Regions from separate parts of the Homo sapiens genome. Here region 1 is linked to region 2. Evidence: fine-mapped expression QTL. A gene starts in region 2. The other region holds a variant in brackets. All regions are shown on one strand. Distances are from middle to middle.

Region 1 (8,323 bases), 130 kb after region 2:
GTTGAAAATGCATTGAATGCATCTAACCTACCAAACATCACAGTTTAGCCTGGCCCACTTTAAACGTGCTCAGAACACTTACATTAGCCCACAGCTGAGTAAAATAATCTTAGATAAAGCCTATTTGTGATACAGTGTTGACTATCTCATGGAATCTACTGGACGGTACTGAAAGTGGAAAGCAGAATGGTTGTAAGGGGCTTGAAGTGCAGCTACTGAACGCGTGTCACTGTTGTACCATCACAAAGTTTAAAAATCTAAGTCAGGGACCATCTGTATTTGACAAATAAAATGCAACAAAACCCATAGGGTGGATGGTCCTAGAAAGTCTCTATTATGAAAGGTAACTGTCAAAAAACGGTATGTGGGGGAGGGTGGTCCTCACCTGAGACATGAGGGTGTCATAAGCTGAGGCTAAGCCAGTGCCAACTGCAATCCCAGTAACGTTCACCACCTGCAAGAGAACCACAGACCTGGTGTGGCAGACCTTCAGGGGACGACGCCAGTTCAGGGTCGCATCAGACAGCTCCCTCTTCATGGAGGAACCTCAACAAGCTTGTCTCTAAAGGGCAACTCAACAGATGTATGCTGTATTTTAGATCAAATGGGTGTCTACATCTATCCTTATTGATTACTGAACAAAAGTGTACCTTCTAACTAAAGGATGATAACCACCTTGTGTCAACTGGGGAAATATTAAACCTAGTTTTTCTTAAACAGTATAGCACATTATAATTTCTATATTTAAGGTTAAATTGTGGGCCAGGTGCGGTGGCTCATGTCTGTAATCCCAGCACTTTGGGAGGCCGAGGCAGGTAGATCACTTGTGGCCAGGAGTTTGAGACCAGCCTGACCAACATGGTGAAACCCCATGTCTACTAAAAATACAAAATTGGCCGGGCATGGTGGCGGGCGCCTGTAATCCCAGTTACTCGGGAGGCTGCGGCAGGAGAATCACTTGAACCCCGGAGGTGGAGGTTGCAGTAAGCCAAGATCATACCATTGCACTCTAGCCTGGGTGACAGAGTGAGACCCTGTCTCAAAAAAAATAAAAAATAAATAAAGTTAAGTTGTGGTTAACATCTAAAGGTGATGCCCCGATCTGCCAGTAGGATGTGCATTTAGTAATAATAACAGCAAACTTTTATTGAGCACATACTATGTGCCAGGCACTGTCCTAAGCCCCTCATGTGCATAGTGCTAGGACAACTCGTCTCATTTTTTGTTTTGGGTAACCTGAGTTACACAAAGTGTATGTCCCTTGCCCAAGTTACTCAGATGGTGACCTAAGTCTGGGAAGTCTGGCTCCAGATCCCAAGCTTTAGTCCTCCAGTGAGGAACAGGACTAGTTGTGTCACCCTCTTGACCAGACCTCACCCAGTCCCTGACAATTAAGGGCACATAGAGTAGCCTGCAGGTAGGGTGCAGGAGGCATTCAGGACGAGGGGCTGAAAGACCCTCATTTGCGTCCTGGGTCTCACGGTTACTGGTGATGGCAGCCCCAGGTGAGTTAGCTTCTTCACTGACCACGACTCTGGCTTGATAAACACAAACTCCAGCCCCACCACATAACTGACAGGCCATACATGTACTGCCCAGCGGGACCCCATGAGACCAGGGTCTCCATCTAACCGTGCCCCAGGAGGGCTGTGGCACAATGAGGATTTACCCACACAGCAACACTGAATTCCAGCCAGGGCAGAGGGGCATGACTAAAGCTCCCAAACCCCTCGGACTGCCAGGAAAACAGAAAGGTAAAGCATGCTAATTTATGAAGTTTTGTGTTTTAAAAAGTCACACAGAGCTGGGCACGGCGGCTCATGCCTGTAATCCCAGCACTTTGGGAGGCCGAGGTGGGCAGATCACTTGAGGCCAGGAGTTCAAGAGCAGCCCGGACAACATGGCAAAACCCCATCTCTAGAAAATACAAAAATTAGCCAGGAGTGGTGGTATGCACCTGTAGTCCCAACTACTCAGGAAGCTGAGGCACAAGAATTGTTTGAACCTGGGAGGCAGAGGTTGCAGTGAGCCAAGACTGCGCCCCTGCACTCTAGCCTGGGCAACAGAGCAAGACTCTGTCTCAAAAAAAAAAAATATGTCACATAGGAGTGTAGGGGGATGGGGGGGATAGGGAGAGATGTGTTAAAGGATACAAAGTTACAGTTAGGCAGAAGGAATAGGCTCCTGTGTTCCACCACACTGCAGGGTGACTGCAGGAAACAATCACAGATAGCTTCAAATAGCTGGAAGGATACTGAAGCCTGGGCAACATGACCAGACCCCATCTTTACAAAAATTTTAAAAATTAGTTGGACATTGGCCGAGTGTGGTGGCTCACGCCTGTAATCCCAGCACTCTGGGAGGCTGAGGCAGGTGGATCACCTGAGGTCAGGATTTCGAGACCAGCCTGGCCAATACGGTGAAACCCTGTCTCTACTAAAAATACAAAAATTAGCTGGGTGCGGTGGCACATGCCTGTAGTCCCAGCTACTCAGGAGGCTGAGGCAGGAGAATCGTTTGAACCCAGGAGATGGAGGTTGCAGTGAGTCACTGCACTCCAGCCTGGGTAACAGAGTGAGACTCTGTCTCAAAAAAAAAAATTTTTTTTGCTGGACTTGGTGGCACACAACTGTGGTTCTAGCTACTTAGAAGGCTGAGGTGGGAGGATCACTTGAGCCCAGGGGTTTGAGGCTGCAGTGAGCTATGATTGCACCACTGCACTCCAGCCTGGGTGACAGGGCAAGATCCTGTCTCAAAAAAAAAAAAAAAAAAGAAATAAAAGAAAAGAAGATATTGAATATTCCCAACACAGAGAAATGAGAAATGTGTTACTCTCCCCCGGGGCTCAGTCTACCCATGTAAAGCAGGACCATGGCCTTGGGCCCCGTGGCTTCTGCTGTCACAAGCTTTTATCAAACTGAGCTCTGACGTTAGACCTCTCGCTTACAACACACAACTTTATAAAAGATAGAACAAAAATTGCTACTCTGTCTCTGGCGACAAGCAGCCCAGAACACCACGCTCCATGTCATGGTGTCTGCCTTCTGAAGGTCAAGGGGAATGTGGCTGAGGCTCAGTACCCAGGCCCGCCCTTCCGCTGAATCAAGGCTTCCATAAAACCTCAGCACAGTTTCCATCCTATCCCATGCCAACTCACCCCTGGCTCCCAGCTTTTCCACCCATGTTTCTTTGACCCAATTCTAACAGCTATTTATTTATCCTTCTTTTAGGGAAGTATTTGTGTAAACTGGTTCAAATTCTTCGTGGAACAAGGTGGACTATAAATAAATGTTCCTTTATTTAAAAAAAAAAAACACATTTTTATTAGTCCTTTTATACTATGAACATTTTTCCAAAGGTAAAAAATTTTGTTTTCACAGTTATCTTAAAAATGAGTCTATTATCTTCCTAGAAGATCTCACTGCAACCTCCGCCTCCCGGTTTCAAGAGATCTCCTGCCTCAGCCTCCCAAGTAGTTGGGATTACAGGCACCCACCACCATGCCTGGCTAATTTTTGTGTTTTTAGTAGAGACGGGGTTTCGCCATGTTGGTCAGGTTAGTCTTGAACTCCTGACTTCAGGTGATCCGCCCGCCTCAGCCTCCCAAAGTGCTGGGATTACAGGTGTGAGCCACCACGCCATGCCTAACCACAGGAATTTCTGTAGCCCGTTCCTGATAAGGGGCTCTGCGCTCTTCCGCCTTTGGCCAAGGGCAGTGGTAGGTCAGCTAAGTTGTCAAGACAATTTTGGCCAACATGGTAAAACCCCGTCTCTACTAAAAATACAAAAATTAGCCAGACACGGTGGTGGGCGCCTGTAATCCCAGCTACTCAGGAGGTTGAGGTGGGAGAATTGCTTGAATCTGGGAGGCGGAGGTTGCAGTGAGCTGAGATCTCACCACTGCACTCCAGCCTAGGCAATAGAGCAAGACTTCATCTCAGGAAAAAACAAAAACAAAAAAAACACAAAAAAACAAAACAGCAGAGTCAGCTTGACTAGTGCTGTCCTCTGGGGCCACCTGCTCAAGGGCATTTTGTCCTTTGTTCCTCCCAGTCTGGTCTCCCATACCCTAAAATCGCCCTCCCTTACCACCACCCCTCCTTCCCTGCTGGCCTCCTTCAAGCCAAGCTTCTTGAAGGTGTTCTTTGCACTCGGGCCTGGCCTGCACTCCCGACTCAGCCCCTATTGATGCCTTGTTTATTCCTGCCCAG[C/T]CCACTGGGCCTGGCCTCTTCCCGGCCTCCTATGACAAAATCCTCAAGTGAGCGCTTGGCCGTCCTTAATCCACTTGGCCATCCCTGCTTTCTAGAGCACTGCCTTGGCCTCCATGACCTCCCGCCCCCCGAAGTTCTTGCCACCCTGCTAGCTGCCCTTCTCAGCCTACAGTGTGTGCTTTTCTTCCACTGCACCCTCCCCGGGTATCCCTGGCCCTCAGAGTCCCCCACAACTTCACCTTCTACCATGGCACATGTTCTCCTGCAGCATCTGTCTGCCTCCCATGTTGAAAACTCTCTTTTAAGCTTCAGTTTCTGCTACCTCTACCCTCCATGTTAACAGTCCCAGCTCCTGGGAGCAGGGACACATTGTCCCAGGACACGTGTAAAATGCCACAGGGGCCAGCTAGCTCACTGGTTGTCCCTGGCTCAGAAGCTCCCCCAATGCTGTCAGCTGTTGGTGGGGAGGGCGGGAGCAGATGATGGGAAACCGGTCTGCCTGGGCGCCGGGCAGGCGCCCCTGGGAGGGGTTGCTTGTGGCGCAGGCCCCCAGCCTCGGCCTGCCTGGCATATGCTGTTAGCAGTGCATTTGTTTTCTCAAGTCCTTTGGAGGCAAGAACCTCAAGCGCGTGGGGATCATACTTCAGAGAGGGGTCCTCATCCTTATGCTGTGCTGCTTTCCCTGCTGGGCCGACTTGGTCAACACCGAGCGCATCCTCCTGCTCTTAAAACAAGACCCGAAGTCTCCAGGTGAGGTCCCCTGTTTCCCAATCCTAGGTTAAGAGTAGGTGGCTATCTGGTCATTGTACCTGTGTGGACATTTTCGGCCAATTACATGGTCTTGATCCCTTTCAAAAATGAAAGCTGTGACTGTGGGTCACAGAGTCGAGCCCACAGCCCCAGGGATGACAGCAGAGGCGGGGAGAGGAGAAGAGTGGACACCCAGATGCTGAGGTCCTCTTGAACAAGGTGGCTGACTGGCCATTAGATGTCATCCACATGGAGGAGTGACCGATGGCCCAGAAGTGAGCCCAGGGAGCACCCTGGGGGCAGTGATGGTTGGCAAGCAGTAATCAGAAAAGGTGGACCCCAATCCTGGGCCCTGCGGGGACACAGCAGGAAATTTCCCTGCCAGTCTTAGATCATCATCCTGTTAAGGTAGAGGCCAAGCTCGTCTTTCCCGGTGGGGACACTGGAGCAGCCATGTATACGAATCTCCTCTGCCTTCATGCCTCTTCCTAGAGTCCCAGTCTAAACTTTCAAAGGAAGCAAAAATGTCCCTTAATCCAATACGTTCACCAAATAACAGACCTGTAAATAAAATGTGTGACTGATTCCACCTGGCAAGGTCTTGGCTCCCATGTAGCTGAATGAGAAGCTCCGGTGGCCCTCCGTGTTCTTAGGGTGTGTACCCATCTCACGGGGACACAGGGGACATTTTCTGAGACTAGGGAAAGCCGCCTACCATCACCAGCAGAAGTGTTTTCCACTTTCTCTGAAAGCCTGGATGAAATGCAGGAAGAAACAACTTTCCACATCACTAACAAAAGCCAGGGAACAGACGTCCCAGGAGGTGTGATTTCAATCCATGGGAGAGGCTTTTCCACAAGGGTGAAAGGGTGGGAGCTGAATGTACTGTGTAATCCAATTAATGGCAAACAACCTAAATTACCTAAAAGTCTCCTGATTTAATTTCATAATAGAAAAAAGTGCAGTTATTTCAGTTTTACACTTTTCTAAGTATTGACACGAGCTCCTTCCAAATCTAATCAGGTAATGGTAAGCCACAGGTCAGTCCCAGACCTGTAAAGGAAGATGCATAAGACATGATACAATTCAAACTGATTTTTTTTTCTTTCCTTTTTTTTTTTTTTTTTTTTTTGAGACGGAGTCTCCTTCTGTTACCCAGGCGGGAGTGCAGTGGCACAATTCCGGCTCACTGCAACCTCAGGCCCCTGGGTTCAAGCGGTTCTCGTGCCTCAGCCTCCCAAGTAGCTGGGATTACAGGCCCGTGCCACCACACCCGGCTAATTTTTGTATTTTTAGTAGAGACGGCGTTTTCCCATGTTGGCCAGGCTGGTCTCAAACTCCTGACCTCAGGTGATCCGCCTACCTCGGCCTCCCAAAGTGCTGGCTGGGATTACAGGCGTTAGCCACCGCGCCCCGCCCTGTGTGTTTGTTTTTGAGACAGGGTCTTGCTCTGTTGCCAAGGCCGGGGTGCAGTGGTGCGGTCTCAGCTCACTGCAGCCTCGATCTGCTGGGCTTAAGCGATCCTCCTGCTTCAGTCTCCCGAGTAGCTGGGACCATAGGCGGTGCCACCACGCTGGGATAATTTTTGTATTTTTAGTAGAGACGGGGGTCTTGCTATGCTGCCCAGGCTGGTCTCGAACTCCTGAGCTCAAGCGATCCTCCCACCTGGGCCTCCCAAAGCGCTGGGATTACAGTCGTGAGCCACAGCGCCTGGGGACACCGCTCAAATCCTAACCCTTGGCCGCCCGTCGGCTCCTACAGGGGCGAAATCAGGCACCCACCGTGACGGCGAGCGTGACAGCGTCCGGCTCGACCTTGCCCAGATGTCCACAGAAGATGGAGCTGACGAGGCTGATTATAAAGATCATCAACTGCGCAAGAAACTGCGGAGGCGCGGAAAGCAAGGCGCGTTCACAGCCGCCCTCCCTCCTGGAAGCCCGCGCCCACCCCTGCGCGGCGGCCGCTCCGGAGGCGTCGGGCTGGGCGTGAGGACGCCGCACTCACCACTGGGCCCGCGAGCGCCGCCAGCTCAGCCGCCTCCCCCCGCAGGTCCGGGGGCAGCGCACCCCGCAGGCCCCACAAGCCGTCACGCCATCCGAGGGCCCGGAGCCGCTATGGGGGCCGGTCCTTGGCGGCGGCGGGGAGCTCGGCGGGGACCGGGGCGTCGGCGGCCGCAGGGGCCTCCATGCGGAGGCTGGGAGCGGCTGGCGGCGGCGCGGGCGCGGGACCGCAGCGCGGTGTGGGGGTGAGGGGGGCGACCCGATCCCACCCAGCCCCGCCCCTCCCCGTCCCGGACCCGCTCCAGACGCCCAGGGCAATGGTCGCCGCCCGCAGAACTCTGGGGGAGGGCACCGGGAGGGCCCTTGGGGGCTTATGAAGGGGGCTCGGGGAAGGGGTCCCTGCGTGAGAGGACCCCTCGTGTGCTTTTGGATGACACGGGTTTTTATCAGGAGAGTTTGTAGGTCAGGTTGGAAGAGCAAAATGCCTAGAGGGTGGGCAGACAGGACTGAGCTGGTGATTCCATCCTCCCGCGGAGCACAGGGCTGGCGCTTTCTGGCATGCTTCTGGCCTGGGCTTGCTGCGGGTTCAGTGTTTCCGGGAGAGGAGGGGTCCTGCCTCGCAGGGACCCCAGCCTCCCTGCTCCTGGCGGCCCGGGGTGGCCTCCTGGCCGCGGCTATTTGTGGCTGGTGGTTGAAAGAACCTCCTCTTATCCCCAGGGGGTCCCTGCCCTACCTGGCAAGGGGAAGGGCAGGGAGTCCTGTGCGAGGGGAATGGAGACAGGGTTCGAGGGTTCCTGACGAGGAGCTGGGGAGGGGCCTCTGTGGTGTCTGCCCCCTGCCCCCAGGCCCAACCCCGAGGGCCACAGTGCAAGCCTTTACCTGCCTTCCTGGAGAATGGGCCTCGTGGCCCCAAGAACAAGGCACTGAGGGTAGAGATACCTTAAGGTGGCCCCAACCAAAATCAGCAGTTGGGTGTTTTTTACTCAAAGTAGGTAACTTTTCTGATTTTGTTATTTCAGGAAAAGGCCATGCCTAGAGCATTATATCCATCCTAGCACTAAGTCAAAAATGTAGAGGCAAAATCTCTATTTAATGTTTTATTTTGGAAGAAAGAATTGCATGTTCAGGGCATCCATGTAGACCAGTTGGTCCTCGGTATGTCGGAACAACACAGAGAAGGCTGGAGGTTTTATCAAAAGAAATGTCAGTATTGCTCTTTGAGAAAGTTTATTGGCACCAGGAAGGGTGTTGGGAGCTGGCAAGCTACAACTGGTGAGCAACCGGGCAGGCAAAATTATTCCTAGAGCTTCAGCAAGTTCTCTCAGCAGTTATGGACAAAGCTGGTCCCAGCTTACAGCACGC
Region 2 (8,323 bases):
AGGTTAACAGAGGCCCTGGACCCAGACTGTACTTGGCAGGACTCCAGGAAATTAGTCACGTGAAGGCAGGGCCCAAGGACCTGGCCCTTGCCCCCAGCAGGCTCCGAGCCTGCAGGAGCTGAGCCCTCAAGTGAGGGGGACTTCCTGGCATGCCCACATGCCTCTTGGCTCTGCCTCAGCGAGGCTGCTGGGGCTGGGGGAGCAGCTCCCCCTGGGTCAAGCTTCCTCTTGCTGGCTGGGAGCCTCCCTAATCCCAGGGTGTGTGCTGGGGGCTTGCCAGGACTCTCCACTCCCTTGCCTCTCCCCGTGCCTCCTGCCATTCCTAGGATTTTGTAGCTTTGGGTCCTCCTTCCCCAAAGAGGTCCTCGATATGCGTGAGTCCTCTCATCACTGACCTCAGGGGTCTTTATCTGCTTGCCCTTGCTCGGGGCCAAGTGTGGACAGCGGGTGGCACAAGAGAGAGCAGAAGAGAGAATGGAGAGGGAGGAATAGAAAGGAGGAAGAGGAGAGTGCTGGTTAAAGGCATGGCCTCTCGGCCACTCCCACCTAGAAGTGGAGGCTGTTCCCTCTCCTGTGAAATTTGGGCGAGTCCATGATTAGCTGTGGTCAACAGGATGAGGCAGAGGGGCATGGGGACCTCCCAGGCTGGCTCTTGACCTGTATGCAGCTTCCACTTGCACCATCGAATGTCCTGTCTTCTGTTCCAGCTCCATGCTGAGATGCCCGTGGTGCACGGGGAGGTCACTCCATGCTGAGATGCCCGTGGTGCGTGGGGAGGTCACTCCATGCTGAGATGCCCGTGGTGCACGGGGAGGTCGCTCCATGCTGAGATACCCGTGGTGCATGGGGAGGTCACTCTATGCTGAGATGCCCGTGGTGCGTGGGGAGGTCACTCTATACTGAGATGCCTGTGGTGCGCGGGGAGATCGCTCCATGCTGAGATGCCCATGGTGCGTGGGGAGGTCACTCTATGCTGAGATGTCCATGGTGCGTTGGGAGGTCGCTCCATGCTGAGATGCCTGTGGTGCACGGGGAGGTCACTTTATGCTGAGATGCCCGTGGTGCATGAGGAGGTCCTATGAGGGGAGGTGGAGATGCTCCGACTGACAGTCTCAGCTGATAGCAGGCACCCACCGCGGCCTGGACATGAGCCTGGAAGACTGGCCAGCCTGGGCCAGTCCCCGGTGACTGCAGACACAGCTAGACTAGGGGAGGCAGAAGGACCACCCAACTCGCCGCACAGACTCATGACACAGATGATAATGGTTTTAAGACACCAATTTTGGGGGGGCTGGTAATAGATAAATGAGGCAGGGTGTGTAGCCATGTTTTCACTTTCATAGCATCCCATCCTCTGGGGGGCCCCCTGCCCCACTTCAGGTAGCTCACAGCTTCCCTCCTTCCCACCCTTTCCACCTCCATTCTTGTTCAGGTTGGCTCTTGCCCCAGTCTTCCAGGAATTTGCCTCTGGGACTGAAGGTGTTTGGGCTGAGTCACCTTTCCCTGAATCACCCTGAGAGTCCAGAGTCTCCCTTCTCAAGGCTGGCGGCTCAGCCCTCTTCTGTATCACCTGGCAATAATGATCTCCTCTCCCCCTTCCTCCCTTCTTCCATCTGCTGACATGATCCCAGTTCGTTTCTACTGTTTCCATCAGAGAACGTGGCTGACACGGCAACTGGCATCGGGAGAATGTCATAGGCCATGTGCCCCAGGAAATAAGGGCCTTGGAAACAAGTGATCAGCTGAGAAGGGAAAGGGTCCAGCATCGCCCGGACTTGCTTGTATATTCTAGGGGATTGGCAGCCCTGTTCCTGAGAGTGAGCTGCTGATCCGTCTGTTGTGTGCAGTATCTGAGACCACAGAAGATGCAGGACTGAAGGGTGGCATGTTGCTCCTGACAGCATTGGAAGCTCTGGAGAGAGGGCAGAGGCTGAAGTCTCGGAGGCTCCCCCCGCCCCAGCCACAGGATGGCGCACAGGGGCCATGTGCAGCTCCGCTCAAAGTATCTCAGGTTCCGGGGCAGAATCCTGGAAAACCCAACTCGGAGCTGAGTCTGCAGGTGGCTGCAGGGCGGTGCTGCTGAGTCTGCAGTTACCACCACAAAAGGAGGGCCTGAAGGCATTGCCAGGAGACTATGGAGGACTCACGGAGCTCTGACACCCCTCACCTGGAGGAGGTGGCTTCCCCCCACCCCCCACTCTGCCTGCACCACCTTTGCCTGGGGCGGCCAATGCATGGCAGTGGAGTCAGTAATCGCCCTTGCTCCTCCCCAGGGTCAAACCCACTGGGGTCTGGGGATTGAAATTCTGAGAGGAGTGTAGGAGGAGAGTGTCTTCCCGAAGAAAATGTAGGAATGCATTGGCTTCTATCACAAAAATCCTGGGAATGTTCCTGAGAAGGGATTTTGGAGATGCTCGGCCTAGGACTGGCCCTCGGGAAGATGACCCGACCTTTGTCCTGTGCAGCTGAGTGCTGAACACTGGTCAGCTCTGGATAAAGCCTGATGTCACCGAGCTGATGGCGGGGCGTCTGCACTGAACACCTTCCAGCTTGGTGGGGGCACGGGAACCAGCTGTCCTCATTAAAAGTGACCTGGAGTGAGATGGATTCTTCTGCCTATACCTCCACGTGTGGGCTCCCTGAACACCCCCATCGCCATGGGCTCCCAAGAAGTATTGCTTCTGGCTGCAGGGCTCACTGCAATGCTGCGACAGGAGGTGACAGGCCAAGGCCAGCAGGTGACTGCTCTCCCCAGAGGCCCTGTCAGCTGGAAGCAGCTGGTTTCACATAACAGAGACCCCAGGCCCAGGTCCCCTGGATGCAGGAGGATTTGCGGCTGCCCTTTTGGAAGAGGTAGGCTGACCATGAGAACTGGCCAAAGGTGAGAAGGACGTGGAGAAGGTGTTGGAGGAGGGAAGTCAGACATACTAGCAATAGCCTGGCCTGCAGGGCTGTAGCTTTCACCTGTACTTCCTCCTGTTTGGTGTCATCATCACAATCACGATGGTGATAAAATGTCTTCTTTCCTCTAGGCAGGTGGTAAAGGTACTATTTGGTGCACAGGTTGGAGAGTGCTGTGATAAGAACCATCAGAACAAGGGCAGGAATGTGACCTCCCAGGTGATCCTGGGAGGATCCAGTGGAGCGTTTCAGAATTCTGTGTCAAAAAAGAAGGCTGCGTGTTGACTGGGGTGGGGCTGTGCCTGTGTTTGGGGCCGCCCATGGGTGTAGCAAACCCTTTTTTTTTTTTTGTATTTGTCCTGCCTCCTCTCCTTCAGGGTCTGCTCCTTCCTCCTCGCGGCTCTGGGGGCTGCATCTCGGAATCCTGCCGGCCACTCCTCCGCTGCAGGGGTGGACATGGGAACCAAGTGGGGCCTTTGGGATGTCTTCAGCCCTCCCACAGCCACTGGCCAGCCTGCCTGCTGTCTTCCTGCCCCCCTCGCTCACTCCTCCTTCTCCTGGGCTGAACCACACCCAAAAGCTTGATCCAGGACTGGGCTAGGTGACCGGTGCAATCCTTAGATGCCTCTCTTGGTTCCCACTGCCCTGCTGGTCTTGAGGCAGGTTGAGGGGGGAGTCACAGGCCATCCCTGCAAGGAAAAGCAGAGAGGGCAATTTGGGAAGGTGACAGAGGACCCTGTGGGACGTCGAGTCACAGCCTTGCTGGGCACAGTGACTGGCGTGCATAGTGAGCTGCTTTCCCAAGCACTGCCACCCCTGGCTCTCAGATATGCTGCTGAAAGGGGTGACGGGCAGTGGGGGGCTTGGGACTCCGCCGAGGTGTCCTAGCTCCCATCCCTATCCCCAGGCCCAGGCCCAGGCCCCTCCAGCATGAAAGGCTAGGGACCGCACTGCCATGGGGTTTGCCAGGCCCCTGTCTCTTGGGAAGCCACCCCTCCCAGGGAAAAGCAGGGCTGAGGGCTGTTCAGGCTCTGCCACCACCTGCTCTGTGACTTCGGGCAGGCCACCAATTCTTCTGAAAAACGGGAGTCACTGTGGGCACCATCACGCCCGGGTACAGGACGCCCAGTGGCTCAGCTGCCCCAGCCAGGCTGCCCTGTCCTGGCCTCAGCACACCTCCCACAGCCACTGCAGGCAGCCCTGGACCTTCTCCTGCTGAGGCCTTACTGCCAATCCCTCTGGGAGACCAGACACAACAGGCAGCGGTCTGGGTGACTCCCAGGAACCTGTCCTCCCTAGTGGCTGAGGCAGTAGGCTTGGCAGCAGGGACTCAGTGCCCTAGGAGGCAGGGCTCATCCCACAAGTTGCCATGGTAGCCCCTCCTCCTGCCCCTTACTCATCAGCCAGGCTGTACCGACACGGGCTGCCCAGGCAGGGGGTGGCTCGCTGGACAAAGCTGGCCGTGCAGGCGCTCAGGCGTGCAGGGTAGCCAGTGCCCCGGCCAGGAATGGACAGCCTCCAGGACACAGTGGCCCTGGACCATGGGGGCTGCTGCCCTGCCCTCAGCAGGCTGGTTCCCAGAGGCTTTGGGACTGAGATGTGGACTCTCTTTGCCCTTTCTGGACCCCTGGTAAGGAGGAGGAGCTGGGGGGCAGGTAGGGAGTGGAGGAAGCTGAGAGGCTGAGGGTGTCTGCCTTGCAGGCAGGATCCAGAAATGTGCTCACATTTTCCCCAGAAACTGCCCATGTTGACTGCCAGGTCCAGAGTCTGGGGACAGCAGGATGGCTCCTGAAAGCTGTCTCTGGACAATCCCCAGTGGCAGTGGGGCCTGACTTTGCTCAGCAGCAGGCAGCCCCCACACAGAAGGGGTGGGTGTGCCTCAGCTGGAAACCCACAAAAGCCTGAGTTGGAAGATGGCTCCAGGACAAATGGGACCCAGAGATGCATGAAGCCTGCAGCACCTTCGCAGGGGGAAGAAGGGGCCGGCTACCCATTTCATTTCCAAAGGGGAAATTGTTTTAAATACATTTATTTTTTCTGATCATGAAGAGGAATAGGCTGGGCGTGCTGCCTCACGCCTGTTATCTCAGCACTTTGGGAGGCCGAGCAGGGAGGATCACCTGAGGTCAGGAGTTGGAGACCAGCCCGGCCAACATGGAGAACCCCCCGACTCTACTAAAAATACAAAAATTAACCAGGCATGGTGGCGGGCGCCTGTAATTCCAGCTACTTGGGAGAGAGAGGCAGAGAATCGCTTGAACCCGGGACGGGTAGGTTGCAGTGAGCCGAGATCGCGCCACTGCACTCCAGCCTGGGCAACAAGGGCGAAACTCCGTCTCAAAAAAAAAAAAAAAAACAAAAAAAACAAAACCAAAAAGGAGTAATGGAATTGCACTTCCTGTAAAACTTTTAGAAAAAAATGAAAGATATAAAGAAGAAAGAAATTTAACTCAAATCCTAGTACTTGGAAATAGCCATTACTAAGATTTTGGTGTATTTAATTCCCCTCCTTTTTTGGGGGTGTGCGGCCTGACCAAATTATTGTTATAATAGGAACTGCAATAGCAGTATCAGACACTTGGGTCAAGCTCAGGGCGCCAGGCACTGCGCTGCGCCAGGCACTGACCCTTCTGGGTAGGGACGTGGAGGCCAGGCGTGACTGCAGCTGCAGAACGCAGAATGGGAGCTGGGCTAGGTCATCCGACCTCCAGCCCTGGCTTCCCCAGGCGTAGGTGACCTCTCGGGGCACTGGTGCGGGGCCCTCAAAGCTGGAGAGGCCTGTCTTGCAGGGCTCGGCTGTGTGGGCACCTGTGGCCCCGAGTCTGACCTGGCCGCTGTCCTCCAGTTCCTGTTCCAGGTGCTGACTTTTATGATCTACATCGTGAGCACTGTGTTCTGCGGGCACCTGGGCAAGGTGGAGCTGGCATCGGTGACCCTCGCGGTGGCCGTGAGTACCCAGCTTGGCCCAGAGCAGGGACGTTCTCTCCCCAGGCTTCTCCACCGGGTTCCCGGGTGGGCCCGTCTTGGGTGGCTGGTCAGGGATGGGAAGACACAGCCCACGTGGCTGGACAGCTGCCTTCACAGGTGGAACCTGAGGGCCGGAGATGGAGGCGGTCTGGCCCTGGGGCACACAGCACATGAGGCTGCTGAGCAGAGCCTCTGCCACCGCTGCCTGCTGGGCAGCATTTCCTGACCCTGGCTCAGCCCAGATGCAGGGGCCTCTCTTCAGGCCTCACCTGACAAGCTCTTGTTTCCTCCTGTGTGTGGCGCCAGTTTGTCAATGTCTGCGGAGTTTCTGTAGGAGTTGGTTTGTCTTCGGCATGTGACACCTTGATGTCTCAGGTGGGTGGCCTCCTGGAGCTGGGCAGGAAGCCAGGCAAGGGCAGAGCCAATTCCACAGGTGCCATGGAGATGGCAGGTGGGAGGGGCGCAGCCAGGTGATCTGGGAGCAATGGGCCCTGGGGTCAGCTGCCCCTGCCCTACCTCCAAGGACCACAGGCTGTCAGGGAAACAGACCCTCCCCTTTGAAAGAGTCTGGGCCAGGAGAAAGGGGTGGAGATGGTGGAGACAGTTCTCTGATCTCTTGCCCCCAGAGGAGGTCACCAAGTAGAGAAAGACAACCGGTTCCCCAGCCTCAATCCTAAGTTCGGCTGCCTACATGCAGGCATGTGTCGAAGGCCAAGGGGACACAGAAGGAACCTCCCTGCTTGCAGGGGCCTGCAGTCCAGCAGGGGCTGCCCAGGTGGCCATGGGGTCACAAAGCGGCAAGGCCTCACCTCTCCCTGGGGGTTTTAGCTTCACGGTGGACCTGGGCTTTGTCCTGGCTCCACTTAACCTGCCGCTGACATGTGATGAAGCCCCATGTGCCTTCGTCCTCCTTGGAGCTTTGGAAGAACAGTGGAGACAGTGGTAGGCCCAGGCTCAGGAAGGCCGCTGTGCCATTACAGGCTGCGGGCGCCAGGCTGTGGTCACCAGAGGCCGCCGGGTCCGCCACACACCGCTGGCGCCGCTGACAGCCCGCTCCCCGCGCGGGATTTAGGAATGTCCCGGGCAGTGGAAACGGCTGACGCGGGGCGGGCTGTTTTGCAGAGCTTCGGCAGCCCCAACAAGAAGCACGTGGGCGTGATCCTGCAGCGGGGCGCGCTGGTCCTGCTCCTCTGCTGCCTCCCTTGCTGGGCGCTCTTCCTCAACACCCAGCACATCCTGCTGCTCTTCCGGCAGGACCCGGACGTGTCCAGGTGCGCTGGGCTCCGGCTGGGGAGGTGGGGCTTGCTGGGAAACCCGGGCCGCCGAGGGAAACCCTGAAGATGCCCAGCCCTCACACCCCATGCTTCTCTAGGCCACGAGTGCTCACAGTGCACGGTGCCTGTGGGTACCTTCCAGGCTTTGGTTTGGGGATTCTCCCCATGGCTGCGGCTCCAGCAGTGACCAGCAGGGACAGAGGCGGACAAACGCCCAGTTTTAATTTAGAAGGCAAGGCAAGAAACAATTTGGGATTTGCATTTTATTTGCATTTGTGTGCCCGGACACAGTTGGAGCTTTACAGATGCTTTCGAAGAAATGAAGTGTGTGCATTTTCCCATATTCCGAAAAGGAGAAAGATGACAACCACTTTTTGATGAATTATAGATGATGATGATGATGATGATTATTATTATTATTATTATTATTACTTGAGACAGAGTCTCGCTCTGTCGCCCAGGCTGGAGTGCAGTGGTGCAATCTTGGCTCACTGCAACCTCTGCCTCCCAGGTTCAAGTGATTCTCCTGCTTCAGCCTCCTGAGTAGCTGGGACTACAGGCACGTGCCACCACACCAGGCTAATTTTTGTATTTTTAGTAGAAACGGGGTTTCACCATGTTAGCCAGGATGGTCTTGATCTCCTGACCTCGTGATCCACCTGCCTCAGCCTCCCAAAGTGCTGGGATTACAGGCATGAGCCATCGCACCCGGCCTATAGTTTATTATTAAATTTATTTTATAATAAATCCCTCTCATAGGGATGCCTTGTTCATTTATATTATGTACATTTCATTTGGTTATTCCTTTTTAAGATATAACCTTTTTTTCTTACGAACCACGTTACTCTGAATTTAAGTTCCCTCATCCTGAGGCCTGGGTGTTTGGGTGTTTCGGCTGCCCCTCCTGGCACCTGCTTACCATCTGGAAGCAGCAGCCCCTGATGCTGAGGTTTCACAGTCCTGGCTGAGACCCTGGGACAGCGGCCGAGCACCCAGTCCTGGAGGACACAGGGGAGAGGGCCCTGCCTCCCCGGGCCACAGCCTGGTCAGCTCCGGAGCTTCTCCCTCTCTTGCAGGTTGACCCAGGACTATGTAATGATTTTCATTCCAGGACTTCCGGTAGGTGCCCCTGTTTGCTGAGCGTGGAATCACATTCCCCTAAATTCTGGCTTTTTGCTTTC

Alleles and levels. Positions count from the first base shown, and alleles are read on the strand shown. Sizes are in standard deviations (SD) of each study's normalised expression.
With allele C in place of T in region 1, the expression in prostate of the gene that starts at base 4,380 in region 2 is lower (large effect, 1.4 SD a copy in GTEx).

What was found. PIP is the estimated chance that this variant, and not a neighbour inherited with it, causes the effect.
Region 1: its variant is the best candidate, but not a certain one, in a credible set for the expression of SLC47A2 in prostate (GTEx, PIP 0.67).

What each region holds. Positions count from the first base shown.
Region 1 is chr17:19,578,755-19,587,077 of GRCh38, reverse strand. It overlaps SLC47A1 (solute carrier family 47 member 1), which reads right to left. Exons shown (of 17, transcript NM_018242.3): 17 at 8,044-8,323. It also overlaps the pseudogene SLC47A1P1. Among named protein-coding and RNA genes, the nearest start is that of SNORA59B, 25 kb to the right of the region's middle. The variant C/T (reference allele first, on the strand shown) is at 4,212.
Region 2 is chr17:19,712,641-19,720,963 of GRCh38, reverse strand. It overlaps SLC47A2 (solute carrier family 47 member 2), which reads left to right and starts at 4,380. Exons shown (of 17, transcript NM_001099646.3): 1 at 4,380-4,531; 2 at 5,747-5,848; 3 at 6,175-6,243; 4 at 6,991-7,139; 5 at 8,219-8,261. The coding sequence starts at 4,409. It overlaps LOC124903948 (a long non-coding RNA gene), which reads right to left and starts at 6,618. Exons shown (of 2, transcript XR_007065659.1): 1 at 5,729-6,618; 2 at 1-3,590. RefSeq lists enhancers at 3,205-4,052, 4,053-4,902.